Linked DNA regions of Homo sapiens: regions 1, 3 and 4 are each linked to region 2. Evidence: fine-mapped expression QTL. A gene starts in region 2. Each other region holds a variant in brackets. All regions are shown on one strand. Distances are from middle to middle.

Region 1 (8,106 bases), 130 kb after region 2:
TAGCTGGGAATACAGATACAAATAAAGTCCATCCCAGAAGAGCTTGTAGGCAATCAGGGCAGCAAGACATTTAAATGAATAATTACAGCACAACCACATGAGCTACAGATAGCATGCGGCGGGACCAGAACAGAGTTGTTACTAACTCTTTCTGGGAGGATCTAGGAAAGTCTTACAAAGGCAGTGTCATTTAATCTGTCTGCAGAAAGTTGAATGGGTATAGCCAGAGGAAAAGGACACTCAAGGCAAAGAAGTAGCATAACCAAAGTCATGAGAGAGCCTAGACACAACTTACTTGTTGATGGAGAAGGTGAGTTTGCAGGGTTGGGGGAGCCAGATCTTGAAGAGCCCTGTGCACTGCACAGTGACCTTGAACTTGATCCTGGGAACCCAGGATGTTTTCTAAGGAGAGAAATGCCTCCTTCAGAGCTGTGACACTGCAGTGACCTTGAACTTGATCCTGGGAACCCCAGGATGCTTTCTAAGGAGAGAAATGCCTCCTTCAGAGCTGTGACACTGCAGTGACCTTGAACTTGATCCTGGGAACCCCAGGATGCTTTCCAAGGAGAGAAATGCCTCCTTCAGAGCTGTGCCCATGTACTTGTTTGTGGGTCATGTTAAACTACAAACTCTTTGCATGGACCTGTTCTGTCTTGTAAACCCAGTTCCCATCACAGATTTAGACCTTTTGCAAGGGTCAGACTTAAAGTCTGTAATTTCCTTTTTCTTTTTTTTAAGACACAACTATAAACAATGCTTTGGAAAGAAGCCCAAGGAAGGAAAAAAAAATAAAAGAGGACTCTTTCCTTTAAGATAAGTCTAGTTTGGCAACATGAGTTAGTCTAACCTTTATTCTCACTCAAAATTCTGGGATGTCCCCCTTCATAAGTATCCTTTGAGAAAAACTGAAAAAGGAGTTACAGGTCAGGAGTCACATCCTGGACACAGAAATTAAGATTCTTGTACAAAGGAGAGGAGGAAAATGTAAGCTCCAAGTCCTCCAAAAAGAGGGTAAAGAGAGCTCACCTTAACAGCAGAAGGATCTGCATCCTCCTTATGGGATTTGATCAGGAGAGGAGGGTCACTGGTGCTGAGCAGAGAGTACTTCCCCAAGAAGCCTCCTTCCCAGCTCTTGGGAATTTGTTCTAAGCTGCTAACAAAGGGGGCTGTACATCTGAAAGATCAAGACTACCCCTGGGAGTTTGAAAATAACCATGCACCCTAAGGGAGCTGAGGGGCTAGACTGCCCACAGCTGGCAGGAAGGAAGTCCCAGGTGGAGGGGAGCTTCCGTTGCTTGGGTAGAAAGACTGCTGACCCTCAGGAAGTGGGTTTTCAGGGTCCAAAGAGCAGCCATGACTTGAGGTGTATTGGGCCCCAAGGGAAGGCCAGAGACATCCAGCCTTCTATGCGGGCCTTTGGGGGTCTCCCTTGGAGACGGCTATGGAGCCTCCTGAGGAGAAGAGGCCTTTTCTAGGGTTCAGGAGGTGGATGCAAAACTTGTGAAGTCCCAGCAAAATCAGCTGGAAATTCCACCCCAGGGACTGGATTTCCTGCTCTGAATCACAGCTTCCCAGTAGAAGTTTTCTTAGATGTCTCTAAAGCTAATTCTCGGCTGGAGTTTGGACATATTAATGCCAGCTCAGACCTGTTGGACTACTGATGCTTTTTATCCCTCTGATAATACAATCCTGTCTTGCCCACTCTTCCTCCAACAGAGTGTTCTACCCCTGGATTTATCGCCACTGTCCAGCCTTAGCATTTGAAGCTGCATTAAACAGAGATAACATGATCTTGGGTACAAGCCATACATGTGACAACTTCTGTTTCTCTAAAATTACCCGCTTAGGTCCTTTGGCACAACTTGATTTCTATTTCCTGCCTTTATTATTCTCCTTCCTATTCATAGACATTTTGGAAATATGTGTGACTGTATTACTTTATTAGCAGTTACTGGCCATGGATAATTAATTTTTTTCTATTGTTCCATCATTGATAGCCATCATCTACTACCACTACAGCTTACTTACCAATTGCTGGGGTAGACACTAATGTGTGCATGACCAACTTGAACATTTTTATTGGTTGAATCTACTTCTGGTACAACTACTCTAAATATCAATCAGTGATGTATTGACAACTGGGCATGATAATCACTCACAAGTTAAAGTTGTGATGCACAAAGTTTGCATTTTACATTGCATCTAACAGCGTCTTTAAAATTCTTTTATACTCTCTGATCTTCAACAAAGCTGACAAAAACAAGCAATGGGGAAAGAACTCCCTATTCAATAAATGGTGCTGGGATAACTCTCTAGCCATATGCAGAAGATTGAAGCTGGACCCCTTCTTTATACCGTATACAAAAATTAACTCAAGATGGATTAAAGATTGAAATATAAAACCCAAAACTATAAAAACCCTGGGAGATAAGCGAGGCAATACCATTCTGGACATAGGAACACGCAAAGATTTCATGATGAAAATGCCAAAAGCAAATGCAACAAAAGCAAAAATTGACAAACGGGATCTAATTAAACTAAAGAGCAACACATTGTTGGTGGGAGAGTAATTTAGTTCAACTATTGTGGACAATATAGTGGACAATATATTGTGGACAATATAGTGTGACAATTCCTCAAAGACCTAAAAACAGAAATACCATTTGACCCAGCAATCCCATTACTGGGTGTATACCCAAAGGAATATAAATAGTTCTATCATAAAGACACATACATGCGTACGTTCACTGCAGCACAATAGCAAAGACATGGAATCAATCTAAATGCCCATCAACAGTAGATTGGATAAAGAAAATGTGGTACATATACACCATGGATGTATTTTGGCATGTATACACCATGGATGCACCACTATTCAGCCATAAAAAAGCAAGTTCATGTGTTTTGCAGGAACATGGATGGAGCTGGAGGCCATTATCCTTAGCAAACTAATGCAGGAGCAGAAAACCACGTACCGCATGTTCTCACTTATAAGTGGGAGCTAAATGATGAGAACACATGGACACATAGAGGGGACAAACAGACAGTTGGGCCTATGAGAGGGTGAAGGATTCGAGGAGGGAGAGGATTAAGAAAAATAATGAGTACTAGGCTTAATACCTGATAATCTGTACAATAAACCCCCATGACACAAGTTTACCTATATAACAAACCAGCACATGTACTCTGAACTTAAAATAAAAGTTAAAGAAGAAAATGTACAATAAATTATAGTTAACCATAAAAAAGCTGACTCTTTCTCATTAAAGTTTCCATCAAGAAAAAATTAAAAAATTTCAAAATAATATCTGTTGTAAACATATTGGAATGTCATATTTCTAAGATTTTTAAAATTTGTGATAAAACAAACTCAAAAGTTGCTTTTTAATGGATGGGAATTGAACAAATATCTCATGTTTGCAAGGAAATGTTTTCGTTTTTTCTGTGATTGGTCTACATTAGAAATACATAGGACTCAGGGATCTGGAATTAAGTGTTTAGGTTGCTTCAGTGCACAGCAACCTTTGAAAAGTGTTTTTGAAGGGCCGGGCGCAGTGGCTCACACCTGTAATCCCAGCACTTTGGGAGGCTGAGGTGGGTAGATCACGAAGTAGGGAGTTCGAGACCAACCTGGCCAACATAGTGAAACCCCATCTCTACTAAAAATACAAAAATTAGCTGGGTGTGGTGGCACACGCCTGTAGTCCCAGCTACTCAGGAGGCTGAGGCAGGAGAGTCACTTGAACCAGGAGGCAGAGGTTGTGGTGAGCCGAGATTGTGCCACTGCACTCCAGCCTGGTGAAAGAGTGAGACTCCATCTCAAACAAAAAAAAAAAAGAAAGAAAAGAAAAGTGTTCTTGAAATAGTACTTAGAGGCTCTGGAAGAAAAGGGAACACACTACTCTCTGAGCACAACACACAAAGTGTATGTGGGAGTGGGGGTAGCCCAGAGAGTTGAGATAATTATCCACAAAGAATTTTGACTGAGAGCGTAATATATTATCTGGCTATAGATCAGTAACAGATTACCCCAAAACTTAATGGCTTAGAATACCAATAAACATTGTCACACTGTGTACCATTTCTCATGGTTTCTGTGGGTCAAAGACACAGGAGCACATCAGGTGGGTGTTTCTGGCTCACGGCTCATGAAAATCTGTGTGATGTTGTTACTTGAGATCACAGTCAAGTTGACAACCAGGGATGTAGTCAGTGAAGGTTTGACAGGGGCTAGAGGATATGATTTCAAGTTTCATCATTGGCAAATTGGTGTTTGCACTTGCTATTGGTAGATCTCAGTTCCTTGTCACATGGCCCTCTCCAGAGGACTGCTTGAGTGTCCTCACAACATGGCAGCTGGCTTCCCCAGAAGGAGCCATCCAAGAGGTAGCAAGGTGGAAGTCACAATGTGTTATTATTTCCTAGCCTCAGAAGTCACACACCATTGGCCAGGCATGGTGGCTCATGCCTGTAATCCCAACACTTTGTGGGGGATGGATCGCCTGAGGTCACGAGTTCAAGACCAGCCTGGCAAACCTGGTGAAACCCCGTCTCTACTAAAAATACAAAAATTAGCTGGGAGTGGTGGTGTGTGCCTGTAATCCCAGCTGCTTGGGAGGCTGAGGCAGGAGAATTACTTGAACCCAGGAGGCGGAGGTTGCAGTGAGCCGAGATCACGTCACTGCATTCCA[G/T]CTTCGGTGAAAGAGTGAGACTCTGTTTCAAAAAAAAAGGAAGTCAGACACCATTATTTCTGTAATATCCTATTAATTATACAGGTCAGCTCTATTTGGTGTGGGAGAAGACTGCACAGGTGTTTGAATGCCAAGGGGCAAGCATCATTGAGGGCCTCTTTCGAAGCTGGTTACCACAATAGCCCAGATATATATCAGCCCCTCAATATTTCCAAGTCTTCTACCTTGCTAGAGTTTTCTTGCGCTTCATAATACAATTTTTTAAATCAGCTCAAACACTCATCCTAGATATGGTACTATATATGGCCTGAATGCTTTTGTTCCCCCCAAATTCATATGTTGAAACCTAACTGCTAATGTGATGGTATCAGGAGATGGGGCCTTTGGGAGGTGATTGGATCATGAAGGCAGAGATCTGCCTTGCCGCTTCATCCATGTGAGGACACAGCAAGAAGACATCATCTATGAATTAGAAAGCAGGATTCCACTAGACACTCAAGCTGCCAATTCCTTGATCATGTACTTCCCAGCTTCCAGAACTCTGAGAAACAAATTTCTGTTTTTTATAAGCCACCCAGTCTACAGTATTTTGCGATTGTTGCCTGAATGGACTAAGACAGAAAATTAGCACTGAGAAGTGGGGGTGCTGCTGTAACAAATACCTTAAAATGTGAAAGTGGCTCTGGACCTGGGTAATGAGGAGAGGCTGGGAGAGTTTTGAGTTGCATATTAGAAAAAGCCTACTGTGCAATGAATGGACTTAAAGGGTAATTCTGTTGAGGGCCTAAAAAGAAAAAAGGAGAACTGTAGAGAAAGCCCCAAACTTCTCAGAGAATATTCAAGTGGTTATGATCAGAATGTTGGTAGAAATATGGACAGTAAGGACCATTCTGATGAGGTCTCAAATGGAAATGAACAATATGTTCTTGGACAATGGACAAAAGCCTACCTCTGTTATAAAGTGGCAAAGAACTTGGCTGAATTGTGTTCACATCATAGTGTTTTGTGGAAGGTAGAACTTGCAAGCAATAAAATAGTATATTTAGCTGAAGAAATTTCTAAGCAACATGTTGAAGGTTTGTCTTGGTTTCTTTTGAATGACTATAATAAAATGCAAGAAGAGACAAATGATTTAAAGATGACATTTTTAATCAAAAGGAAAGCAGAACTTTAAAATTTGGAAAATTCTCAGCCTATCCATATTGAAGGAAATGAGAAAGAACAAGAGTGTGGCCAAGCAACCAATAAGGAGACTAATATGGATCTGCCATCTCAACAGAGGCCAAGTGTTATTTAACAAGGCAATGGAATAATTGACCCTGAAGGCATTGGAGTTCATTGGGGTTGACCCTTTTATCAGAAGCCCAGAGTATAAGAGCTTAGGATGGGGCAGAACAATTTCAAGGCTCTGCTCCCTGCATGCAGGCACAGTGCTGCTCAGCCACCCTAGGAATGGCTCCAGTAAGCCCAGTTGCAGTACGGGCTGTGGTGGTTACCTCTCTGGAGGGCACAGAAAAGTCACCCTGGGTGGCACCTGTGTGGTGCCATCTTTGCCAGCAGTTGGCATGCATGAGCCATGGGGGAAGGGCTACCTCCACTTAGATTTTAAAGAATAGAGTCTCTTGGATGTATGACTCAGGTAGAGGGCCACTATGAGGGCAGGGCAATGCCCAGTGGAGCCATGGGAGCAAAGCTGCCCTCATGACTCTAGACTGATAGACTCACGTGCTTGCAATTCCAGTATGGGAGAGCCACAGACAAGCAACTCCAACCCAAGTAAGCTGTGGTATGGGATGCACCTAGCAAAGCCATAAGGGTGGGGCCACCTGGGACCCAACTCCCATGACAGTGTGTTTAGAAAGCAGGACATCAAGTCAAAGAAGAAAATTATTATTATTTCTTTTTGACAGGGTCTGACTTTGTTGTCCAGGCTGGAGTACAGTGGCACAAATACTGCTCACTGCAGCCTCAATCACCAGGGCCCAAGTGATCCTCTCATCTCATCCTTCTGAGTAGCCAGCATTACAGGCATGCACCACCACACCCAGAATTTTTTTTTTAATTTTTTGTAGAAAAGAGGTCTCACTATGTTGCCCAGGCTGGTCTTGAGCTCCTGGCCTCAAGCAATCTTCCCACCTCAGCCTTCAAAAGTGCTGGAATTACAGGTCTGAGCCACCGCACCTGGCCAAGAAGATTATTCTTGAGGCTTAAGATTTAATGTTGTTTGCCCTGTTGGGTTTTGGACTTACTTGGGAACTCTTACCTTTTTCTTCTTTCCTATTTTCCCCTTTTGGAATAGGAATGTCCACCATATGCCAGTCCCACCACTGTATTTTAGAAACACATAACTTGCTTGATTTCACAGGTTCACAACTATAGGGCAATTTACCTCAGACTGAACCATACCTTGAGTCTCACCATATTTGATTCAGATGATATTTAGATGAGTCTTTGGTCTTAGACTTTAAAGTTGAAGCTGGAACAAGTTAAGACTTTGGGAGTAATTGCGGTGGAATGAATGCATTTTGTATGCAAAAAGGACATGAATTTTGGGGAGCCTAGGATAGAATATCATGTTCTGGGTGTTTGTGTCCCCTCCAAATTCGTATATTGAAAACTAGTCATCAATGTGATGGTGTTAGGAGAGGAGGCCTTGGAGCAGTGACTAGGTCATTAGGACAGAGCCTTCATTAATGAGATTAGTGGCCTTATAAAAGAGGCCCCAGAGAGCTGCCTTGGCCCTTCCACCAGGTGAGGACACAGAAGGGGACCCAGGAAGATCAGAAAGGAGGCCCTGCTGGCACCTTGATCTTAGACTTCCAGCCTCCAAAACTGTGAGAAATAAATTTCTGTTGTTTATAAGGTGCCCAGTTTATGGTATTTTGTTATAACAGCCTGACTGACTAAGGCATATATTGTAAAACCAAGTGCCCATCCCAACATCTGCAGGGATTCTTGGAGTGGGAATGGGAGGTGATGAGGCGGCCTGAAGTTTCTCCTAGTCACTTGCGGCTTACAGGGCTTAGAAGCAGGAGCTCTGCTTTGCATGTTGCCTTCTCTGTGCTGTCCTCTTCTGCACCATCTCATCCAACTCATCACTGCCTCCAGGCCATCAGTCCTCAAGGTACCACCAACTCACGGCTGTGTGAAGGACACGCCAGAGGAACATGAAGTGTGGTGGGCTCAGTGTTTTATGGGATGCCACAAATAGTCTAAAATTGAACATTAATCTCTTCAGTTCTTTTCTATTGTTTTGAGGCAGGGTCTCTCTCTGTCACCCAAGCTGGAGTGCAGGAGTCCGATCGTAGCTCACTGCAGCCTCCAACTCTGAGCTCAAGCGATCTTCCCACCTAAACCTCCCAAGTAGCTGGGACTAATCTCTTCAGTTCTTAATGCTGTCTTAGACATTCCTACT
Region 2 (8,106 bases):
AAAAATCTTCCCTAGCAGACAAGGTGCTGGGAGGGGGACGTGGAGGGGGCTGTGGAGTCTGACCCAGGAAATCGTGGAGGAGGGGCAGGTCAGAAACAAACTGGGGGGTTTGGGGGTCGGGGTCAGAGACAGGCGAAGAGAAGCCAAGTGGCCTCCGGCTCACCTGCTTGGTGACCGAGTCGATGAGCCTGACATAGAGGTCCTGTTCCGTGCGGACACCTGCGGGGACCGGAGGGGCACGAGTCAAGGGCCGTAGAGCCCCTTCCGGGCACCCCAAACCCTTCTCTGCCATGGGTCTGAGGCCCAAGCAGCCTCTCCATGCTGAGCCGCCCTGGAGACGGTGACCTCCCAATCCCCTGTCCCAGGCAAGCCTCCCGCCGCCCTGGGCTCCATGCGATCCCTGAGAGTGATCATGGCAAGGTCAGCGCGTGCGGCCCGGAAGCCGGCTGCTAGGCGCCGGCTCACCGTTGCTGTAGAAGAGCTCACCGTTGCTGTAGAGGAGCTGTAACTTGTAGTGAGTGCCGTTGTTGGTCTTCTCGTTGCCTTGTTCCTGAAAAGACAGGCAGCGTTCGATTCCCTTGCCTTTCAGCCCCCCAAAATGAGGGAAAGAGGAGACAGTGAATCCCCACCTCACATCCCTTCTCCCCATCAAAAGGCAGCTTTGAGTAACCCCCTGTTCAGCCCTAGGTCAAAGGGCATGAGCATCTGCCTGTCCTTGGCCGCCCCCGGAAACTTGCCAAGACTCGTAGCCACTTGACCCTTTCCAGCCCTCTGTCTCCCTTAAAAATGTCCTCAGAAGTGTGACCCTTGAGCTTCCGACAACAGGACCACTTGCCAAAGCTGCCTTTAAACAGGCACCACCCAACCCATCGGGCTCTGTCTGTCCTTAGGAAGCCCCAAGGCTTCCCTTGGCAGAAAAGTGAAGGGACTTGTCATTTGGAAAGGCAGCATTCGGGCCTATCCCGCGAGGACTGCGCACGCAGGGCCACGAGCTCAGGGACTGAGTTCCAGGTTCAGGAGGGACTTTGGGAAGTGCCTACTCTAAAGCTCACATTGTACAGCTGGGGACACGGAGACCCGGAAAGGGCAAGGGATTTTCCTTTGGTCACACATAGGTTTCGGCGGACTGTCCTTCATTTGAGACCGAACCCAGCCCCCAATTCCAGGCTTGAGTTTGGAGGAGGCGCTGCCTTGGAGAACAGAACAGGAGAGAAGACACGGCCAGAAGGCAGGCCAAGGCTGGGCTGCCGGTTTCCACTTAGTGCCGCAACTCAGGCCACCTGGCTCTCGCAGGTGCAAAATAATTAAAATTAACCCAGAGAAGGGGAGCGGCGGCCTTGGGTGTACTTTTTAACTAGTCCAAGGGGCGTTTGCTCCGCCGTCAGTCCATAACCAGGCGCTACTAAGGCCTCCAGGCTCGGTGCGCAGAGCCGGGAGCGCTCCTCCAGCTCCAGGTTGGGGGAGTCGGGGTGGGAGGAGGTTCGGGAAATCGACTGATTTAGAGGCTGGGGGTGAGTAGCCTCGATTTATCATCCCTGATGGTGAGAGTGGAAAAGTGTCGCGAGAGTGACAGATGGAATCTTTAGTGCTTCGCAAGAGGGAGTTATTAGGCCGCGGGGTTTGGGGGGTACTTTCCGCTTACTTTGTCATTCTCCACAAAGTCCACGAAGGCCGTCCGCTCGATCTCCACCGGCTGGCCCTGCCTGTCATAGAGCGCCAGGACGAAGTGAAAGAAGTTGGATTTCCTCAAGTTGGAAGGAGGCTGTTTCTCAAAGTGGGCCCGGGACAGGGCGACCCCGCTGCACAGGGAGAAAAACGGGGGAACACAAGACACGGGGAAGCACAAAAAGGCGATGTTACTAACCGCCCACAACACTGCAGAGGGGTAAGGGGTCCACTTCCCAGGTCCAGAGTTCTGAACCCTTCGGGCCTTTTTTCCAATTCGGATAAGGAAGAGGAGACTCCTTAAAGGAGTCACCGTGGCCACGGGGGTTGGGTGGCAGGGTTGATACCTGGGGTCTCTGACACCACCAAGTGGTCCGGCATCCCACCGCTGGGCCACTCACCATCCCGTCTTTAGTCGAAACCGAAAGACCCCGGCTGCAGACAGAGGCCCAGAGTGGTCCCCTAAGGAGGTGGCCCGCGTCCTATACCGTGGGGCTGTCTCCATCCACTCCCTCAGGTGGTACTGCTGGGTGTATCAGGATGCAGAGCTGGGGCCCAGGGTTAGGGGAATAAGTGCCTCCTTTGCTTTGGAAGAAGCGACCCTTTTATTTAGTATTAATTCGAGTTATCAGTCCTGGACCCACTGCTCACAACGCCCAAATGCTGACTGGGAAAGGTAGTGGGTAAGAACCCCAAGGGGCAGGCGGGAGAGTAACACAGAGTCCAGGTCTGGGTCCTTGGGCTGCTTGCCTCGCTCTTCCGAAAAGTTGTGCCTGGGACAGAGACAGGGCGGAATCCTCGCGACCAGCCCCGGGGATCGCTGGCCACCACAAATGAGATGACCGACATAGGGGGCCCTCCCTCCCAGAGGTGCTAGGTGGGGAAAAGCCAAACTGTTAAAAGGCGAGAACCTCCTTTCCTGGGGCCAACGCGATCCCCACTCATGCTGCGTTTTCTGGCGGCGCCAGCCGAACCCAGTGACTGTGAAACCCAAGTTGGGGGACCCGGAAGGCGCCCTCGAGCGTGCTGAGTGTGTGCACACGCTTCCCAGCCAACCGGTCGCAGTCACAGCCCACCTGGCCATCAGATCCCATTTCACCGAAGACTTGGGGCTGAGGTGAACGCACAGATTGCGGGAGCTGCCCTGCGGCGCTGGGGTCTCCCAGGTTGAACCCCGGTGCGCAAGCACCTTCATTCACTCTTTTGAAAGGGGTAACATTTTGGCTAAGCTCTCCCCCACTAAGTCTGCTCCTTCCAGCTTCAACAAACTTTTTGATCCCGGGAAGGAAGGAAAGCGAGGGAGGCGTCTTTAAGGAGCCCAGCTAAGGAAATGCGCGGCACAGTTGGCTCTGCGGTGCTGCCTTATTTCCCTTAGCTCGCAGGCGGGCCAGTCCCGAAGCGCTGCGGAAAGCCGCGGCCGCCGCGCTGTGCGGTCTGCCGGAGGGAAATCCGCGCTCCCCGGGCCACAGGAGGGAGGGAACCGCCGCCGGCCCAAGTCCCGGAGCGATAAAACTTCTGCTTTCTCCGCTCCAAGGGTAGAGGCCGGTTCGCTCTACCCGGGACACCTGGCCAGTTTGGGAAAGGGATCATTTCTCCGTGTGATGTTGGCACTTAAATGTGGGTGGCCAGGAGGGCAGCAGGGGAAGCGAGGGTAGTGGAAGAAGTTCATCGGCTCTTTGGGGGTAGAAGGGCTGCCTCTCTCGCAGACAAGGACCTGGAGGCCACAAATCCCAACTCAGTAGTGGTGATGAGAGAGTGGGACCGTAATGTCTTCGTAGGGTGGCACCCCGGACATGGTATTTACTATCCCAGCACGCAGACGCCTAAACACAAAGTCAACTTCAGGGATCCGCAAAACCAGAGGCTGGCGATCCCTGAGCCAGTCTAGCTGCTGGTGGCCTTTTCTCGCCTCTTTCTTCTTCCGCAACTCTTTCTACTGTGACTCAGTATTTTCTCTTCTTTTAAATCTCTTCTTTTCTCCAGTTCCCTAGCTCCGTTCGTCTGGCTCACTGTTTTATCTTTGAGCCGGGACCCTCCAGCCTGTCCCCCCTCCCAGAGCTCCCGGCCGCCTCGTCTTCCCGGGCAGCCGCTCCGGCTTTTCCCGCTCCCCTCGCCGCCGCCACCCTCTGGCCGCCGGCCTCCCAGGCTCCAGGAATCGCCCAGCAAGATGCGGGAGGTAGGCGCTCGCAGGCGGCGTGGCGAAGCCAAGAGTGGCCAGGAAGCCGGCTTTCCTCCCGCGCCGCCACTGCCAGCGCCGGTGTTCACGCTCCGTTCGGGGCCAGGCCGGCTCGGCTTGCAGGACTAGGGGCTGAGCTGGGAGATGTTGGGGGCTACTTTATTTTTCCTTGCAAAGAGTGGACTGTGGTAAAGGAGAGGGAGAGAAACGCCTACGACCCAGGCAGTTCAGGAACTCGAGTGCCGGCTGCCGGGTGAGCGTTCGCCTGACTGCAGCGATCTGCTTGCCCGAGGGCGAGCCCCAGCGCGCAGGGCCTGGGCGACAGATGGGGGGACAGGGAGAGAGAAAGGCACGGGGTGCGCGGGGGGGGTGCACACGGAGAGACAGACCGTAAGAGCGAGAGACAGCATAATAATTGCGCGGCCGTGTCGTTACCTCTGCGCGGCGACATTAGCGTCCACCACTCCGACATTCCGGACCCAGGACCTGACCGAATCCATCTCCGCGCCCAGCGATTTCTCTTTCAGAGTTGGTCCTCTTCCTAAAGTATCTTGAATTCCAAACATTTAAAAAGTCTGATCCTCTACTGTCGCTTTAAAAGTAAGAGTTACAACACAGTCCTGACTGTTCCCAACGTTGCCAGCAAATCGTCTCCTCCAAAGCAATCCAAGAAAAGGGATCAAGTGCCCAAGTTTGAGTCTTAGAAAAAAAAAAAAGATAACCCGTCCTTTGCTTCACTGGCGAGGTGCGGACTGATGTAGTCAAAGTTTGGGTTCTTATCCTCCGCAAGTTCAGATCTGCCGCCTCAGCCACTCCACCCTAGGTCGCTCGCATCCTTCCAGCTGCAGTGCTGCCTCCTGAAAGTGATCACAATTTAGAAGCATCACCTGTTCTGGGAGAAACTGGAGGAAATTGATGGCTGCCTAATCTCTCCCCTTCCTCCAGGTCCCCCCTCCCTGCTCCTCCCCACCGTTCCAATTTAGAAAAAAAAAAAATCCCCAACAGGATCAGTTGTAAAAAGAAGGGGAAGACCTGGAGCCGAGAGGAGGCGGTGGCTGCGAGCGCCACGGAGCCCGGCTGCAGCCGCGCGCGGGCCCCATGAATGGGTTACTACGGCCCTGGCTGCGGGAGGCGGAGCTGCGGCCCGATAAGGAGCCTCATTTGCATGGACGCGCGGGATTGGCCGGCGCCTGGCAAGCCGGGCCGACGTCCTCCGGCGGCGCGCGCCACGCTCTGCGTTGCCGGGACTCCGGGAGGTGAAAGGGGACAGAAAGCTGCGGGCGTCGAGTCCTAGCACGAACCCCGTGTGCTTGCGCAGGATTGGGGGGCCCCCACACCCTGCACTGACTTAGGGTAGCAGGTCTCTGCGGGCTGGGGACGCAGGGGTTCGGCCTGGCTGCGGGAAGCCTCCCTGGATCCTGCCTCTAGATGTAGGCTTTTGTAGCCTGCCGGGAGGCACGTTCGTTCCCGGGGTTCGGATCTGTGTGCATGCTTGTGAGCGTGGCCACATGTGCTTATGTTTTGCGCAAACGTCCCCCAGAGCACCCAGCTCCCTGAATGGCTCCCCAGGTCTCCTGGAGTTCCATGGTGATATCAGATGTTGTGTGCGGCTTGCACGTTGCTGAGAGTGGAGAACATATGAAAGAAGGCGGGGGATGGGGTGGGGCGGACAAGCGAGGGGCAAGTGCTGCTCAAATACAGTGCTGGGGAAAACGGTCCAGGACCTAAGGAAAACACCCGCGGGCGGGCGGGCGCGAGCGGCAGTCGCACCCGTGTGGAGGAGAGGTTGCTGACAGATCGAGGCGGGCTGAGTGCGCGAGCGGCCGGGGAGTATTCCCGCGGGTCCTCCGGTTCCCTCCCCACCTCTCCGTTCCCGAAGCCCCCGGTAGTGGGCGGGGAGGGACGGGGGAGTCGTGGAAACTTCGCCCACCGCGCGCGGTCGCCGCGGTGCTGGCCGCGGGCTGGTGGCCGGCAGGCGGTGGCAGCAGCCTCACCGAACAGCTGAAACCCTAGACGGTTTTTTAACTGCGCGGGGCTGCTCGCGGTGCCTATTAAACATCCTCCTGGCTGGGTGTCATTTTCTTGCTTCTCCTTTTGTATTCTGATCTGCGCATAGATCTGCTGCTGCTGAAATCTAGAACACCAGCGCGAAAACAGATTTGAAGACAATGAATGCAAATCTGTGCTCAAAGACCATCTGCCGTGGAGGAGACAATCAGCTGTTCGTAGTTCGAGCGATTGCGCCCCAGTCTCCCGGTCTCATTACGGGGAGGGCATTTGCGAGCGCCTGGACTGCGTTCAGGGCACTTTCTCCCCTCTTGGGTCTCAGATTTGAGAGACCAGATCCCTTAGGTGTAGGTGAGCGCTCGCAAATGAACTGCTAGAGTTTGCCGCTAGAGGACACAGCGCCTTGCAACTGGTTTGCCTAGGCTGACAGGAAGCTTGCACTTCAAGAAAACTCGGCTCTCTCGAGAAAGGGACCGGTGCGCGCCTCCACCTCCCCAAGGGACAAACCGCGGCACCACGCTGCGTGCGCGGGATTGCGACTAGGAAGTGCTGGTCCGAACTGCGGAGATTCGCTTGAAAACGGATAGGGGGTTAGGGAGTTTGCGGGGCGGGTGCACGGACCGTCTCTGCACAGGCCCCGGGATCCAGGGACTGGGGTCATTGATTTGGGGGAAGGTAGAGAAGGTAAACCCCCCGCCTCTGGGTTGTGTTGACTGTGGTACCCCGACCCCAGAGCTCTGGCTTGGTCCTCCCTGTTGGACTGGAAGGGGCGGGAGAGCCATACAGGGCGATTGGGAAATGGATCGGGTGGCTAGTAAAAGCCAAGTAAGACAGGAGTGTCCAAAGGAAGAAGGGGGTAGGGAGGGAAATTTGTAGGGATGAGATTCACTGCCCTGTTTCAACTCGGCAATTCTCTGTTACATGCAGGTTTTACGGAGAATTTCGGTCCCAGCAAAAACTGATCACCTGGAGTCTTCTACGGTCTCTCTTTATAAATCTCTCCGAACCTCAAGCAACTCCCCCCCACCCCCTTCGTCTGGGGTCTGCGCCCAGCGGGGCCAAAGCCTTGAGTTCCTTGGCAGAGAGTGTGGAACAGCCGTGAGCCCTTCAAGACATGCCTATGAGCCCGGTGATTTTTTTTTCAAGGGGGCTTTGATCAGCTGTACCTCCACGTTGCCCCGGAAAGGTGCGCAGGGCACCCGGAGAGGCCTCTGGTCAGCAGTGGGCCTGGGCCAAGCCCCAACAGTTTACCCCTCAGGCTCAGGTTGGCTGGGGTTAAAGGGCAAAGTCAGGGTCGAGGGCACCAGCTTTTCTCGGCGGTAACAGCTGCCACCCAAATTATGCCCCCTCAGGAAGCGAATGAATTGTTCCTTTCTCCCAGCTCCCTGCTGCCCGCCCCAAAACAGACGGGGCCGCGCTCGGCGGGCGCCCCTCCTCCCAGCCAACCCCCCGAGACGCGCTCAGGGGCCTCGGTGCCCCGCTGGGAGGCAATTTGGGGGAGCCGTGGTCCCGAACTTTGACAGAGTGGGGCTTCCCCACTACTTGCCGGCTGCGCTAAGGGCGCCCCCCGCGGCAGTGCTGCTGGGAGCTCCAGGGATGGCTGTGTGGCTCGCTGCGGGCGTTGAAGTTCCCTGTTGGCCAGGCTGAAGTGCCTGCGCGAGCGTGAGGGGACAAGGACTGCCTTGGGCCCAGCGTGGCGGCGTTTCGGCCAACCCAGTTGGGGTTAATTGCGTCTGTATAGGTTTTGGGTAGGAATGCTCGCGGAGTCCGCCACCCGCGCGAAACATGCGTTGGTTGGGGGAATGAGCAGCGGCGGCTGCGCCTGGAGGGTTGCTCCCACCTCTGTCGCCTCCAGCTACCCCCAAACAAACCTCCTTTTCGATCTCGTGCAACACAAAACCTGCCCCGAGCTGTGCGGGGGCCTGGCAAGCGCAGCTGCGGCCCCGGGAAGCCCAATCCCGCGGGACTGCGGAGCCCACGCGCTCCTCAGGCTCCGGCCAACTAGCTCGGTTCTGCCTCTAGCCCGGGTCAAGAAAAATCCAAAATGAACACTATGATTAAAATTATTCACAATCTATTTATACAAAACTGGGGGTGTCTGTCTTTTACCCTGTCCCCTTCTTCATTTACCCTTCCCAAATGACCCTCACCCCCGTTTTTTTCATGTTTCTGTTTCACGTCTGCAACCCAGTGCGGTATGTTCGATTTCCTTTTAATTGGTTTTAAGCCCCTTTGCTCAATCTCGTCCGGTCCAGTCA
Region 3 (8,106 bases), 220 kb before region 2:
ATCTACAGAGCGTAGAGGTGTCATGCCTGCCTTGGGCTGGCAGGGTGGGCTCAGGTATCCTGGTGCTGTTCCCCTTCCTGTTGCTTTGCATCTTGTCTGGAAGGGTGAAAAATGTGGTTGGATTCACATGGCTTGTTGGCACATTCAAGAATTCATCCCAAATTTGGTTCTCAGTTTGTTAAATATGTCAGCACTGACCGAAATTTTAGATATCAGGACCCAAATTGTGGCTTACCCCATAGATCTTTCTCCTTCCTTCAAATATTGCAGGCCCTCTGACAATACTCATTACTGGATTCTGAAAAAACAGTCTGCTCAAAAACCTGTTCTGATGGCTGGGGATTACTTGTGGTTCTGAATTATGTGGAATATGAGACTGAGGCTATAATAATCTGATGTGTCCTATTAACTCTTTGAACTCTTTAAAAAATGTGGCTCATGAGAGGTCATGAAGGAGCCACACCCATTCCCACAGAAGGCAGCCCAGGCTGGGGCTGCTACAGACATCAGACCCAGGCCCTCTGGTAGAGACTCATCAGAACTGGAAATTGGGCTGGGCATGGTGGCTCACACCTGTAATCCCAGCACTTTTGGAGGCCTAGGTGGATGGATCACTTGGGGTCAGGAGTTTAAGACCTGCCTGGCCAACATGGTGAAACCCTGTCTATTAAAAATACAAAAATTACCCAGGCGTGGTGGCGGGCACCTGTAATCCCAGCTACTCAGGAGGCTGAGGCACAAGAATTGCTTGAACTCGGGAGGCAGAGGTTGTAGTGAGCCAAGATCACGCCATCGCACTTCAGCCAACAGAGTGAGACTGCATCTCAAAAAAAAAAAAAAATTGGAAATGAAATGAAATTTTGAACACTTTTTTGCATATCAAGTCATGGGAAAAAAAATAAAAATTTGTGTTGGACTTGACGTTCTTTGGAATTTTAATTGTACATTAAGGAAATTTAACTTTGGGCTTTAATTCTTTGGAACCTAAACTTTGGACTTTCCTTAGAAGAAGATTTGATTTTTGGACTTCAAGATCTCACTTGGAATTTCCAGATGAAAGGGAGTTTGTATTCAAATTTGGTCTCCTCTGTGTTGCCGGAATTCAATTATTGAGTATTTTATATTGTTATTTAATTACATTGCAGAACCTCCAAAAAACATTATATTAGACAATGTAGCTGAACATTTTGGCGGCAGGGAGTGAGAAAAAGACTAGGAAGTGAATTTGCCCTTACGTTAGTTAAATTAATATGCTCTTTGGATCCATCCAGAGTCTTCTGAGAGTCATTTCTCAACTGTCCACCTTCAATCCCAGAAGGATTCTCCAAAGGAACTGTGGCTAGTGTGAGGGGACTGGCCTCAGAAAGATGGGAGTGGCACTGTTAGGACAGAGAGCTCCCCCAGAGAAAATAGCCACAACCTTGGGTGACCATAAGCTTAATGGTTAAACCCAGTTGGCTAGGAGAACAAAGAACTGGGATGCTTTAAGAGAAATCACTTTTTATCCTTTCCGTATGCCTTCATGAGTAACACTCCTGGCGCCCTGGCCCCTATCCCTCACATCCCCATGAGAAGGAGGGAGTTGTAGCCTTTGGCATATGTGATCTGTTGGGTAGAGTTCATCCATCAAAAGACTGTCAGCATGAGGGATTTGCTCTCATCCCTCCTGTCTTCTAGTTTTAGTTAATGCATCTGCTGTGGTCCCAAACTTTCACTTGGACGGCCACCCCAGGGTCTACACTAGTGTGTGTCGTGTGTGCCTGTGGGGAGTGGGTTGGGTAGGGAATGTTAACAGGCTCATGGCATACCTCAGCCATGCTCCCCAATAACGTGTATTAGTAATAAAGTCAGCATTTTCCTCTTCATTTGCCTGACTCCTGTTCTACCCTGTGGTAGGTTCTGAACTTGGGCAAGAACAAGCATATTAGTTTGTTTACTCTATAGAGCCCCCAGTAACGCTCATCTTTAAAGTCTGAATAATAAGCCCCACCACTACTCCCATCATACGCAGCTGTATTTAAAGGTTAAGCAGATAATGGATGTAAAAATACTTTGTAAATTGCTTATCATTCCTTAGTTTGGTCAATTCTTGTTGTTACTTGTATTAGTTCTAAGATAACCGTCATCTCCTTTGCAAATGAGAATTTAAAATGACACTGCTCACTGCAGTGTAGTCATAGTGTGAATAGCTCCCACTTCTTGACTTCCTGTTCTGCGCTGGGCACTCAAGATAATTCTCACTCTGTGCGTTTCTTGCTTTATTGACAACATCACAACTTTTCTCAAAATGTTGGGAAGAATATGAAGTTCCTGAGAGGACATTGAAATGGAGGCCAACAGGAGGCCCTGGGTGTGTCATTTTTAACCATTTTTCATAAATCCAAAAAAGGGGTCACGTTTATTATGGCTATTGCCTTACGCAAGGAGAGTTGTAGGCAGGGGCTACTCCTACTCTGTGTTCTTCTTCAAGGTTGGATGGGGGCATAGGGTTACCCACTTTGTCTCTTGCAAGTTGATATCTCTGTGTGTCAACTTGCCATTAGCTATTCTGTTGACACCCCCGTACAGCCCCAGCTGCCTGTGAACCCTATCCCACAAGCAGAGATAATGAGACAGTGCTACGTATATAACCTGGTCTGATTAGAGTCTCAGATCTTTGCACCTCAACAGCTGTGTGTTGTCACCAATGAAAATTTTTAACTCGTCTGCCAATTCCCTGGTTGCCCAAATAAGTGGCTGAAAGAGTGGCTGCTGTTCCATCGTTTATTAGAACAGAATTTAGGTTCTGATAAACCCTAATGCTGAAAATTAGCTCCGAGGAAACTGCGACTGTGGTTCTTGGTCTCTGGCTGATAGGAAGAAGTTAGAATGTATTCAGGTGGGGTTTTTTTATCCTGTAGCCAGTTCAGCACTCAAATTACTTCTGAGCTATTTTTAAAAACGTAATAGGACCAATACTTAGGAGAGCCAGATGCAGTGTGAGGAGGATCAGAAAGCATCTATTACGGGCTCGACATTCGCTCTCCCACAAAGCCTCGGATGATATTGGAAAAGCTCTTCGTGGTCTTCCCGGCGGCTTAACCACGTCGCTGGAATCCTCGGGGTGCTCGCAAAACTTGCCATGGATGGAGAAGCCGTTTTAGCTCGTGAAGTCATGTTGGAATTAGCCTTTTGACATCAGCAAAGTCACAGGCGTCACTGGCTTTTCAGTTACATTGAGATGTCGCCCCGGGACTATAGGGGTGCAATCTACCCTTTCAAAATGTTGGAGCCTGAGCCTTCTTTTTGAGGTCTCCAAAGAAAGAGGCTTCGCATTTTTGGTAGCATGTTCAAGTGTCTCACACCTGTTTCAGACAAAGACAGTTATTTTTCAAGTGCATTCTAGAATTTTTCTTCTTGTTCTGATATTGTGGAGCGTGAAACCTCTTTTCATCTCCACTTTCCTCTGATTCCTCATG[C/G]AGGATTCTTGGAGGTTGTCATTGGTTCCACTCCCTTGGCTTTTTCCTTTTCAGACTAAAATGAGCAACAGACTGAGAAGAATACACTGTGTTCCCAGCTGGGGAGCAGAAAGAAAGAGGAGGAGGCCACTGAGGGAGGATGGAAGATGCAGCCCCTGGCCTCGTTGGAACGTGCCATCCAGTGAATAATTTCTTCCATTTTTCCTCCAGCAGGAAAAGGTGTCTTTTTTCTCCCCCAAGCTGTTGCTCATTTTGGCCATGTCCTTCCCAAACCTTTCCAAGTTCTCTCAATTCTTCATTTCCAAAGCTCAGTTTGAATCTAGCACAGAAAAACAATAATCTTATTTTAAAAGATGTTTAAATTCAAAAACTATAACATCTTGCTTATGTTATTTTAAAATTACAGTGGGAAACAAGAGCATTGGTGGCAGGGCTAGATTCTGGCTGTGTCACCACCCGGCTCTGGGACTTCTGCCGACAACCCTAATTTGTCTCAGCCTCAGTTGCTGGTAAAATGTGGATAGCAACAGCCGATTACGGGCTTGGTAGGAGCATTAGAGGCTAAGTGTGGGAGGCTCCTTGCACTTACTGATTTCTTTTTTTAAAATAGAAAATTATAAAATCTGAATCCTATTGTCTTTTTATGAATTAAAATGCACAGGCCCATGGTTTTCATGAACAGCAGTAGTGTACTCAGTGCTGCGACTGTTAATTTCTCAGCCCTTCCTAGGCAGGGCTGAGTCTGTCCTTCCAGCTCCCACAGCCCCTGGCTCATGCCTGTTCCCCAGGAGGGGCCATGTTGTAGCCGAGTGTTGATAAACCTGCCTCTTCCATGCATAGTGAGGCTCTCCAAGCAATGTCGAGCCGTCCACTCATCTGCGCACTTGTGTGCTGGCCTTGCCGCTTATGAAGTGCATTCATATGGCTGTAGAGAGTGGTATGATAAGATAACGGAGACAGAGAAGGGTGAGGGGATGAAGGGGGCAGAATGATGAGAAATTGATTAGTGGGTACAATGTACATTATTCTGGTGATAGATACCCCAAAAGCCCTGTCTTGATCACTACAAAATCTATGCACGCAACAAAATTGCCCTTGTACCCCATACATTTGTACAAATTAAAAAATAAAGCATGTTCACAGGCACTGTGACATTATTATTTCAGTCTTACAGCAATGCCATGAGCTAGTTCCTTAGGCCCATTTTACAGATGATAGAATGAGCTCAGAAAAACCAAGCCATTGTTCCATGGTCAAAAAGCCCATGAACTAAGTCACTTGAATGTGAATCTCAGCTTTTTTTTTTTTTTTTCTTAAGGTGAATTTTGTGTTTCTGTCACCTCTCAGCCCCACAGTCCTAGGGTTCTCTGTTTCCTACATCTGGCACTATCTCTTTTACACACACAAACTCAACACCCTCCTCTGTAGCCAGGAACTTAAATCATCCCCAGGTAGGACTGAGATGGCACGAGGGAAGACCACGTGAGGATAGAGTGAAGCGGCGGCTGTCTGCAAGTCAAGGAGAGAGGCCTCAGAAGAAACTAACTCTACTGACACCTTGATCTTGAACTTCCAGGCACCGGAACTATGAGAAAATAAATTTCTGTAGTTTTAGCCTCAAAAAAACCGTCATCTCCAGGTAACCTGGAAGCTCCAGTAATCCCCAGGTTTGTGAATTCTTGGAGTGCCATTAACATTGCTGCCAGCTCTGATGGAAGGAATCAGGGTACAAGACCATGACCTGCCCACAGAGTGCCAGGTTGGCCCTGGGAACCTGGCCAGCCTCTCTTCTTGGCTAACTCTGGGCACCAGAACCTTGTCTGAAATAATTCTGTGGTAGCTATAGAAACATCTTGAGTGGTCTTATACTCCCAAACATTATATAGATGAGAAAAGTATAGCTAAGAATGGCTGAAGCCACTCAGTGGAGCAGACTCTTGGTCCATGGCCCTGAATAAATCCTTGTGGTGGCTCCTGACATGACATCACACTTCCTCTTCCCCAAGACTCTTAGCAAGTGCACATAACAAGCTGGTCTTCATGCTCACCTGGACCACAGCTTTTTTGTACACTCACCTCTTCTCCGCTGTGCGTCTGTGTTGTCCTCCTTATCTATCCTGGGACATACCTGGGTGCTTTTCCCAAGCCTTTGCTGATGGACAGACTTGCTCAAGGTTCTGTGTGAGCAGAAGCTTCCTGCCTGAGTTCTTAGAGAAGCATGGTTGGCATCCCTGTGCTAAGAAATTCTTTCTGCTTACCGGTCTCTCAGAGGGAAACAGCTCTTTCTGTTGACTCTTGACCCTATAGTTTTACATGTTGGTTGACACTGGAAGCTTGTGTTCTCTGACCAGCTGTGCTTGTGCTATAGGGAGAGGACAGATGCTCTGTGTCCCACTCCTTTAGGACAAAATATTGGTTCCAAGATAAATTGATTCCCGGGTGCTCGCAAGCAAGGACACCACAACACTGTCTCTATCAGTGTTCTTTCTGCTGATAGAAGACTGGACTTTCACTGTTTTCCGACTTTGTCTCCAGTGATGCACGGGCTCACTGTGTGTCCAGGAAACAGTTTCTTGCCGGCATCTTCACCTGAAGTAGAGGAGGAACAGGATGCCCCCAGAGTCCTCGAGGGTGGGCCTGTGTCCACTGGGGGCAGGGTGTTCCTTTCCATCTGCCGATCTTTGGGCAGCCTAAGGACACCAGGGTGGGGGCAGGAGGAAGAGGAACCATGGAGGCAACATAGGCCACATCTGTACTGAGGCTCAGACAGTTTCCCCTTTGGCTTTGTCTTTCTGTGTCTGTTGAAGATAACACTTATTAAGGTAGAATCAACTATAATAATCTGCACCTATGTAAAGTGTACACGTTGGTAAGTTTGGGCTTATGTAAACACCCATGAAACCATCACCATAATCAAGATCGGGAATATATTCTTCACCCTCAAAAGTTTCCCCAAGCCCATTATAGATCAGTTTGCAGTTTCTAGAATTTTATATAAATAGAATCATATAGTATCTAGTGTTTAAAAAATTGATATGTAATTTACATACAATAAAATTCACTTGTTTTAAATATATATATTTGTAAGGACTCTCCAGAGAAACATAATGAATTGTGTGTTTGTGTGTGTGGGGGGAGAGAGAGAGAGAGAGGGAAGAAAATATTCAGTTTTGTAAAGGAATTAGCTCACAAAATTGTGGGGTCTGAAATTTGTAGGGCAGGCCAGCAGGCTGAAAACTCAGGCAGGAGGAGATGTTACAGTCTTGAGATAGAATTTCTTTTCTTGGAGACCTCAGATTTTGCTCCGAAGACCTTTAACTGATTGGGTGAGGCCCACCCAGATTATTAAGGGTAATCTTTTTATTTAAAATTGTGCCACCATCATCGCAATCTAATTTTAGAACAGTCCCATCACCCTGAAGCCTTAAACACTTTTTCCTTTGGATTTATCTTTCTGTGTTTCTTTTTTACCATTAAGGTCATCAGTACAAAAGGAACTAGACACCTCTAGTCTAATTCTTCAGCTCTTCTAATCTCATTTTTTTCCTTTATTTCCTCTAACAAAATGGGATACATGTGCAGAATGTGCAGGTTTGTTATATAGGTATACATGTGCCATGGTGGTTTGCTGTACCTATTGACCCATACTCTAAGTTCCCTCCCCTCGCCCCCATCCCCCAACAGGCCCAGGTGTGTGTTGCTCCCTTCTCTGCGTCCATGTAGTCTCAATGTTCAATTCCCACTTATGAGTGAGAACATGTGGTGTTTCGTTTTCTGTTCTTGTGTTAGTTTACTGAGGATGATGGCTTCCAGCTTCATCCATGTCCCTGCAAAGGACATGATCTCATTTTTAATGGCTGCATAGTATTCCATGGTGTATATGTACCACATTTTCTTTATCCAGTCTATCATTGATGGGCATTTGTGTTGGTTCCATGTCTTTGCTATTGTAAATAATGCCGCAATAAACATACATGTGCATGTGTCTTTATGGTAGAATGATTTATATTCCTTTGGGTATATACCCAGTAATGGGATTGCTGGATCAAATGGTATTTCTGGTTCTAGATCCTTGAGGAATCACCATACTGTCTTCCACAATGGTTGAAATAGTTTACATTCCCACCACCAGTGTAAAGCGTTCCTATTTCTCCACAGCCTCACCAGCATCTATTGATTCATGACTTTTTAATAATCACCATTCTTACTGGCATGAGATGGTATCTCATGGTGGTTTTGATTTGCATTTCTCTGGTCAGTGATGTTGAGCTTTTTTTCATATATTTGTTGGCTGTGTAAATGTCTTCTTTTTAGTAGTATTCCTATCCTTTGACAACTTTTTGATGGAATTGTTTTTTTTCTTGTAAATATGTTTAAGTCCCTTATAAATTCTGGATATTAGACCTTTGTCAGATGGGTAGATTGCAAAAATTTTCTCCCATTCTGTAGGTTGCCTGTTCACTCTGATGATAGTTCCTTTTAAGCAGTGCAGAAGCTCTTTTGTTTAATTAGATCCCATTTGTCAATTTTGGCTTTTGTTGCAGTTGCTTTTGGTGTTTTTGTCATGAAGTTTTTGCCCATGCCTATGTCCTGAATGGTATTGCCTATGTTTTCTTCAAGGGTTTTTATGGCTTTGGATTTTATAGTT
Region 4 (8,106 bases), 260 kb before region 2:
ATATTCTCCTCTCCCCAGTTTTGGTTGTTTTGTCAGCTCTCCAATGCCTTGAAACTAATTCTTTTATCTTGCTTTGTTTTATTTAGCTTTTCCAGTTGTTTTGGGCTAGAGAGTGGTCTGCTGCAAACTACTTAAGCATAACCAGAAGCAAAAATCCATATTGTTTTAAAAATGAGTTCTGGGGAGCCCTTGCTAAGGAACAGAAGAGAAGCTGCTGGAAGATTCATCCTCTGGGGTCTCTGGGTTGATGTTTTACCTCAATGCATCTAGGACTCAGAATAGCTGGTTGCAACTATGACTCTTCATTAACCTGCTGAATAACATAGACCAGCCATCCAACTTTCCCCACTTAAGAAATGAGGACATTATCTAGTCTTCTCACTTGACAGAACTGTCGTGAGAAAAGATTATTTATGTAAGTGTTTTGGAAAGGTAAAGATGATATACCTGTTGAATGCAGTCAGGTAGTTCTCTGTGATCAGATAGGTGTTTGTGTCTCTAGCTGTTCATTGGATGAATGTCTTTCTCCCCCAACTAGACTGTAAACACTTTAAGGATGGGGCCTATGTCCTCTACTTCCATTTTATTTCCTACAGTTTCACATTGCATGTCATTCACAAAATAGGCATCATTTAAATACCCTACAGAAAAAAATTGAACCTTTTTCTGTGTCTGTCCATACGTGCAGGCTATCAGATATATGATCTAAGTGTTTGTGTCGCCCCCAGATTAATATGCTGAAAGCCTAACCCACATGGTGATGGTATTAGGAGGTGGGGCCTTTGAAAGGCGATTAATGAGAACAGAGACAGCATGATTCAGATTGGTGCTCTTGTAAAAGAGGCCCCAGAGAGCTAGTGAGCCTTTTCCACCGTGGAGGACCCAGCAAGAGGGCTCCATCTATGAACCAGAAATCAGGATCTCACCAGGTTTCCCAGCCTGAAGAACTGGAAGAAATAAACTTCTGTTGTTTATAAGCTACCCAGTTTATGGTATTTTGTTGTAGCAACCCGAATGGATTAAGACAAGCCTCATTTTTATTTTCAGTCTATGTTGGTAAATCCCAGCTTAGGGATTTGCCGTTTGAGGGACAAGTTTTGATCATCAGCTCTTCCTCTTTTATTTTTAACTTTTTTCTTTTATTATTTTTAATTGACACATAATTGTGCATATTTATGGGGTACATCTTGATACATGTATACAATGTGTAGTGATCAAATCAGAGTAATTAGCATATCCATCATCTCAAACATTTTTCACTTCTTTGGGAATATTCAAAATCATCTAGCTATCTGAAAATATACAATAAGTTGTTGTTTATAGTCACCCTACAGTGCTGCAGAACACTAGAACTTGTACCTCCTATCTAGCTGTAGTTGTGCATCCATTAACCAACTTCTCCCTATTTTCTCCTTCCCTCTAGTAACCATATTTCTACTTTGTGCTTCTATGAGATCAGCTGTTTTAGCTTCCACATAAGGGTAAGAACAAGCAGTATTTATTTTTCTGTCCCTGGCTTATTTCACTGAACATAATGTTCTCCAAGCTCATCCATGTTGCTGTAAATACCAGGATTTCATTCTCTTTATGGCTGAATAGTATTCCATTGTGTATATAGGCCACATTTTCTTTATCCATTTATTTCTTAATGGGCACTTAGTTTGGTTCCATATCTTGGTTATTGCATATAGTGCTGCAATAAACATGGAGGTGTGGATAATCTCTTCAACATACTGATTTCCCTTCCTTGGGTATAGCTAGATCATAAGGTAGTTCTATTTTTAGTTTTTTGAGGGACCACAATACTGCTTTCCACCATGCCTGTACTAATTTGCATCCCTATTAACAGTGTATAAGAATTCCCCTTTCTCCATATCTTTGCTAGCCTTTTTTTGTCTTTTTGATAATAGCCTTTCTAATGGGTGAAATGATATCTTGTGGTTTTGATTTGCATTTCCCTGATGATTAGTGATGTTGAGCATTTTTTCATGTACTGGTTGGCCAGTTGTATATTTTTTTTTTCTGAGAGATGTGTATTTAGTTCATTTGCCCATTTTAAAATCAGATTATTATGATTATTTTTTGCTGTTAAGTTCCCTGTATATTCTGGATACTAATTCCTTGTTGGATGAATGGTTTGCACATATTTTCTCCCATTCTTTAGGTTGTCTCTTCACTCTGTTGATTGCTTCATTTGCCATGGAGGAGCCTTTTAGTTTGATATAATCCCATTTGTCTATTTTTGCTTTTGTTGCAGGTGCTTTTGCAGGCCTATCCATAAAATCTTTGCCTGTTCCAATGTCCTGAAGCATTTCTGCTATGATTTCTTCTAACAGTTTCATAGTTTGGGATCTTATATTTAAGTCTAATTCATTTTACTTTTTTTTATATATAGCGAGAGATAGGGTTTAGTTTCATTCTTCCGTGTATGGATATTGTATTAGTCTGTTCTCATGCTGCTAATAAAGACACATCCAAGACAGGATAATTTATAAATGAAAGAGGTTTAATTGACTCTCAGTTCAGCATGGCTGGTTAGGCGTCAGGAAACTTACAGTCATGGTGGAAGGTAAAGCAAAGACATCCTTCATCACATGGTGACAGCAAGGAGAAGTACAGAGCAAAGGGGCAAAGCCCCTTATAAAGCCATCAGATCTCATGAGAACTCACTCAGTATCATGAGAATGGCATGAAGTAACCGCCCCCATGATTCAGTTACCTCCCATTAGGTCCCTCCCACAACCTTTGGGAATGATGGGAACTACAGTTCAAGATGAGACATAGGTGGGGACACAGCCAAACCATATCAGATAAGCAGTTTCCCCATCACCATTCATTGAATAGACTGTCTTTTCCCCAGTAAATGTTCTTAAGATCTTTGTCAAAAATCAGTAGGCTGTAACTGTGTGGATTTATTTCTGGGTCCTCTATTCTGGTCCATTGGTCTACATGACTGTTTTTATGCCAGTACTATGCTGTTTGGGTTACTATAATTTTGTAGTATATTTTCAGTCAGACAGTGTGATGCCTCCAGTTTTGTTCTCTTTGCTCAGGATTGCTTTAGCTATTTGAGGTCTTTTGTGGTTCCGTATGAATTTTAGGATTGTTTTTCTATTCCTGTGAAGAATGTCGTTGATCTTTTGATAGCGATTGCATTGAATATGCAGATTGCTTTTGGTAGTATGCTCATTTTCACAATATCATTCTACCAGTTCATGAACATGGAAGGTCTTTTCATTTTTTTTGTCCTCTTTATTTCATCAGTGTTTTATAGTTTTCATTGATGAGATCTTTTACCTCCATGATTACATTTATTTTTAGGTATTTTATTTTATTTTATTTTTGTTGCTATTACAACTGTGGTTACTTTCTTGACTTCTTTTTCAGCTAGTTTATTGATAGTCTATAAAAAACGCTATAGATTTTTATGTGTTGATTTTGTATCCTGCAGCTTTACTGATTTTTAAAAATCAGTTCTAAAAGTTTGATGGCACTCTTAGGGTTTTCTATGTGTAAGATCGTGTCATCTGCAAATAGGGACAATTTGACTTCTTCTGTTCCAATTTGGATGCCCTTTAGTTTTTTCTTTTGCCTAATTACTCTGGCTTAAGACTTCCAAAGGTCTACTTTTGACATTTTTATTTTAATTATTTTGTGCTTTCTAGTTTCACTGTTTTTTTTTTTTAATTTCGTTCAATATTGATGCATACTTAAAAGGACTTTCTTCAATACTGGGCAATTCTTAGCTTTTTTTTTTTTTAATATTGCCTTTCCATTTTTACCTTTATTCTCTTTTTCCAGAACTCCTACTTAATGGATATTAGAAATTCTCAATATATTACTCGTCTTTTAACAGCTCTTCTTTAAAAAAAAATCTCTATTTCTCTGTGTACACTATAGAGAAAACATTTTTGTATTTTCTTCAAATTCCCCAATTCTCTCTTTAATTAATCCCAGTCAAGTTATTGTCCTATTATCCTGTTGAGTTTATTAGATCAACTATATTTTTCAACTTAATGGTTGTAATTTTAAAAAATACTCACTTGTTCTTTTTAC[G/A]TTTCTATTTCATAATTTTATTGTTATTTGTAGATATGATTCCTTCATTTATCTCTTTGTAGATCCTAAACATATTTATTTTGAGGCCTATTTCAGATTGTTTTCTTATTTTATTTCTATCTGTAGTGAACTCATATTTTGATCGTTAATTTTGTTGGCTTTTTTCCTATTTCTTGCTTTATTTGGAACTTATATTTTTAGGCTCATTTTAAATGGGTGGATATTTTTCTTTCACTCTTTCCTTATTTTAATTTAATTTACTCTCCAGTTAATGGTTTTGAAATGACTGTCCGTAGGCCCCACAGAACCATGCTTTTTATTGGTGGTCTAGGACTCAGGCTCTGCAGTGAAACTGGGCATGGTATAGCTTTGGCTGGCTGGTGGTTTGATTCCTTTCCGGATCTTAAGGCTCTGTCTGCTTTATTTTGCTGAAGCATTTGGCAATAACTTTTAGGAGGCCCAGAAGTCAACCCAAAAATACATTTTATTCTGTAGTTTCTTAATTGTTAATATCAAGTGTAAAACATTATCCCTTGCCTCCTCCCACTTTAGATGAGTAATTTAACATGTAAATTCCCCCTTCTCTCCTCCTTCTTGGTTTTGCTAATATGATTTGGGATTTTAAATCAGAATTACTGCTCTAAATTTATTGTTTTAAAAGGCCAGCTTCCCTCTTAAACAGGGAATGCTTCAGTGTAATATAATAGGAACACCCATGATTCTCTAAACTTCCATAAATGAAGCACTAGTGATCATAAAGAAGATGAAGAAATTTTGGGGGACTGCCAATTTCCTTTCACCTAGGTGATAATTGTAAAAAGTGAAACATAAAAGTGGCCTGACTAAAACAGGCAATCTTCGTAGGTCTTTCTAATAGTTATCTTTGTTTCAGTGCAGCTTTTAGCTTATGTCCTGGTTATAAATAGGTTACACAATAGGCATTGGAAATATTCATGAGAGTGTGGAGGTATTTAAATGGCAAGTAATTGCTGGAGTTACAGCAAAAACTAAAAGCTAGATGGTCTACACTATCACGGAATTTATCACAGTTAAACAAACTGTGAGCCATTTGTGCTTCCTCTTCAAGTTCACCTTCAACACGTTTCATCTGTCTTCCATCTCCATGGCTGCACTAAAGCTGCCCTGGTCAAGGATGCTCATGATCTCCATGTTGCCAAACCTAATAGACCTCACTGTACTTGACTTTTTGGCAACATTCATGAGAGTTGACTGCCCATCTTTCTTAAGACACTTTTCCCTCTTAGTTTTGATGAAACCAACTCCTATTTTTCCTCCTGTTTTTCTGGCTGCTCCTTGACTTTTTGACCGATAAATATTAGAGTTCCCAGGGCTTATTCCTGAGTCTTATTTTCTATCAATACTCTCTCCTTATGAAACCTTAACCAGTCCCATAGCTTTAAATAATGCATAATGAGGATTCTTAGTTAATTTTCAGCTCTAAACCCTCTTCCAAATTGCAAACTAACTCATAGGACTGATTTCCTGTTTGATATCACCACATGGATGTGTAACAAACGTTTCAAACTTAACATGTCTGAAACAAACCAGGAATTGTCACCCATCCAATGGTTCCTTCCCAATTCCCCCCAGCACTGAACCTCAGTAAATGATCCTACCAGACAGTTGCTAAGCCAAAAATCTAGAAATCTCTTATCACTGTTTCTTTAACCCCAACATCCAATCCATCAGATCACCTACAATATACATGTTGACTCTACCATGTCTCTCCATTCCCATCACCACTATGAAAGTTTAAGCCACCATCACCTCTTGTCTGGACCACAGCAATTGATTCCCATTGGTCTCTCTGCTTTTATGCATGCCTCACTCCAGTGTCTTCTTTGCATGGCCAACTAATCTTTTTAGAATATGAATCGTGTCATGTTATTCCCTAGCTAAAGACCCTCAGTGATTTCCCAGTGAATTTAGAAAAGGTCTAGATTTTCTTAACCTGGCTTGTTGCAGCAAACTCACCTTATTCTATTCTCCCTTTAGTTCTTTCTCTTCGAAAACATGGCAAGTTTCTGTGCCTTAGATATTTGGTATTTTCTTTTCCCTCTGCCTGGGAGATTCCTTGCCTGTCTCTCTGCAAGGTTTTGACATAAACATGACATCCTCAAAGACTTTTCCTCCGACCACACTATCTAAAGTATCTCCTGGATTATTTAGTTCAGTTAATATTTTCTTTTTTCCCTTTATACTAGTACATGGAACTTTCTCGTTTGTTTCTTTACTCTCTATCTCTATCCATTAGAATGTAAGTTCCCTAATGGCTGAGACTTCATCTTGTTCGTGGATATAGTCTCATAACCTAGAACTAGGATGACAATATAATTTATTTTCCAAATTGGGACACTTTTGTTTGTGCTAAAATACCATGATGAGTGAGATGCAAGGATAATAGGTGTAAGCACAGACTACACCAGGAAAATGCGGATTTACAGTCAAGCTGCCTAGAGCATAAGCTGACATCTAGTTAGCCCTCAATAATGAACTGTTAAAAACAGTTACAGAATCACATGCTGCTAAGTGAAGGAAGCCAGTATGAAAAGGATGACTACTGTATGATTCTGTTTATAAGAGATTGTAGTGAAGACAAAACTATAGCAATGGTAAACAGATCAGTGATTGCCAGGGCTTGGGGAAGGGAAAGAGTTGAATAGGTGAAGCATGGGGGATTCTTTAGGACAGTGAAACTCACCTATGTGATGCTGTCATGGTGAATTCATGACATCTTGCATTTGTTAAAATCCATAGAACTTTGCAAACAGTGAACTTCTTATATACAACTTTTAAAAAATCACTTAGGAGGTCAGGGGATCCCAGGATGGAATATAGGCTACAACAAAAGAACTTAATGTGTTATAAATGTATATGATAACCTCACTGAAGGAAGTGATAGGGTTGGGGTTGGGGAGGTACTGACCTAAGTAACTTTGGAAATGAATGGAGACTGGAAGACTAAAGCCATAGTAACTGCACATAAGCACTGTTCTATTTGGTAAAGCTTTCCCTTGCCTGGCTCTCTGTAAGGTTTTGACACAAATATGACATCCTCAAAGATGTTTCCTCCAACCACGCTATCTAAAGTATCACGTATAATAGGAGCAAGCTGAAGAATGCTGTAGGCAATGAGTGGTATGTGGGAGGACCCACAGGCAAAAAACAAAAGATTGCATTGCAAAAACATTAGCAAGTCCAGTATCTTATATCCATCACTCTTTCTTCACATGAAAGCTCTTTCTTTAAGAGCTCCTGAAAGGACTGTTATGATTCCCATTTTACAGATGAGGAAATCAAGACCCTGAGAGGTAGTGCTTTTCCCAACGACATACACCCTATTGGTGGTTAAAACAGAACAGGGAGCCCAGCCTATCAGACTCTAAAACCTATACCATTCCTCTCATGTTACTCTCCATTTGCTTAAGAATCCTATAGAAGTCGGCTGTAGTCAGTTTCTCACTTCTGAAAATGAACAAAACTGAGTGTGTATGGAGCTAACATGCAGATCAGTAGGGGGGCTGGGAAACGTTGACCATGGCAGCCGCTAGTTCTCACTAAGTTGCTCTCACAAGCAGCATTCTCTTACTTGCCAGGAACCAGAGCCCTATGAAACCAGAGGTCAAATTCCAACCTATGAACCCAAGGGAAATTATGTATCATGAAAATATGGCCTGGGAAGTGGAACCAAAAAAAAAAAAGTCCTGTTATGGAAAGGAGAATGAGAATAGTAGAAGGAAAGGCAGGGTTGGAGACAGACTGTACTGGGACTGGGGTGGTGGAGAGATGAGCAAGGTGAGCAGCTCAGTCTCCACGTGGCAGGTGCCCCCAGGAAGAATCAAGAGTTGGCCCAACGCTGCTCATTTAAATGGCTCTGCTGCCACCTCTACCTCCCACCTCCTTCCTCCTCCTCCATCACCACTATGTAGCAAGCTGCTAAAAAACCAGGAGGAACTGTCCAAACCTAGCACCTGCCTAAAGAGGATCATGGTTGTCTTCCACCTGCTGGGCCTGGGAACAGGGCAACAT

Direction of the effects. Alleles are on the strand shown, and positions count from the first base shown. SD is a standard deviation of normalised expression in the study named. Not every link is listed here.
For the expression in nucleus accumbens of the gene that starts at base 4,961 in region 2, allele G in region 1 goes with a higher level than allele T (small effect, 0.31 SD a copy in GTEx).

What was found.
Region 1: its variant is fine-mapped to the expression of EBF2 in nucleus accumbens (GTEx, PIP 0.98).
Region 3: its variant is fine-mapped to the expression of EBF2 in lung (TOPMed, PIP 0.99).
Region 4: its variant is fine-mapped to the expression of EBF2 in lung (TOPMed, PIP above 0.99).

What each region holds. Positions count from the first base shown.
Region 1 is chr8:26,173,543-26,181,648 of GRCh38, forward strand. All of the region lies in intron 2 of LOC105379336 (a long non-coding RNA gene), which reads right to left. Among named protein-coding and RNA genes, the nearest start is that of PPP2R2A, 110 kb to the right of the region's middle. RefSeq lists a silencer at 4,410-4,576. The variant G/T (reference allele first, on the strand shown) is at 4,692.
Region 2 is chr8:26,040,453-26,048,558 of GRCh38, forward strand. EBF2 (EBF transcription factor 2) reads right to left here and starts at 4,961. Exons shown (of 16, transcript NM_022659.4): 1 at 4,277-4,961; 2 at 1,643-1,799; 3 at 487-550; 4 at 164-219. The coding sequence starts at 4,407. RefSeq lists a silencer at 2,881-3,175 and an enhancer at 7,477-8,106.
Region 3 is chr8:25,818,226-25,826,331 of GRCh38, forward strand. The region is part of intron 1 of LOC107986933 (a long non-coding RNA gene); the gene reads left to right. Among named protein-coding and RNA genes, the nearest start is that of EBF2, 220 kb to the right of the region's middle. The variant C/G (reference allele first, on the strand shown) is at 3,459.
Region 4 is chr8:25,776,476-25,784,581 of GRCh38, forward strand. The region is part of intron 1 of LOC107986933 (a long non-coding RNA gene); the gene reads left to right. Among named protein-coding and RNA genes, the nearest start is that of EBF2, 260 kb to the right of the region's middle. The variant G/A (reference allele first, on the strand shown) is at 4,057.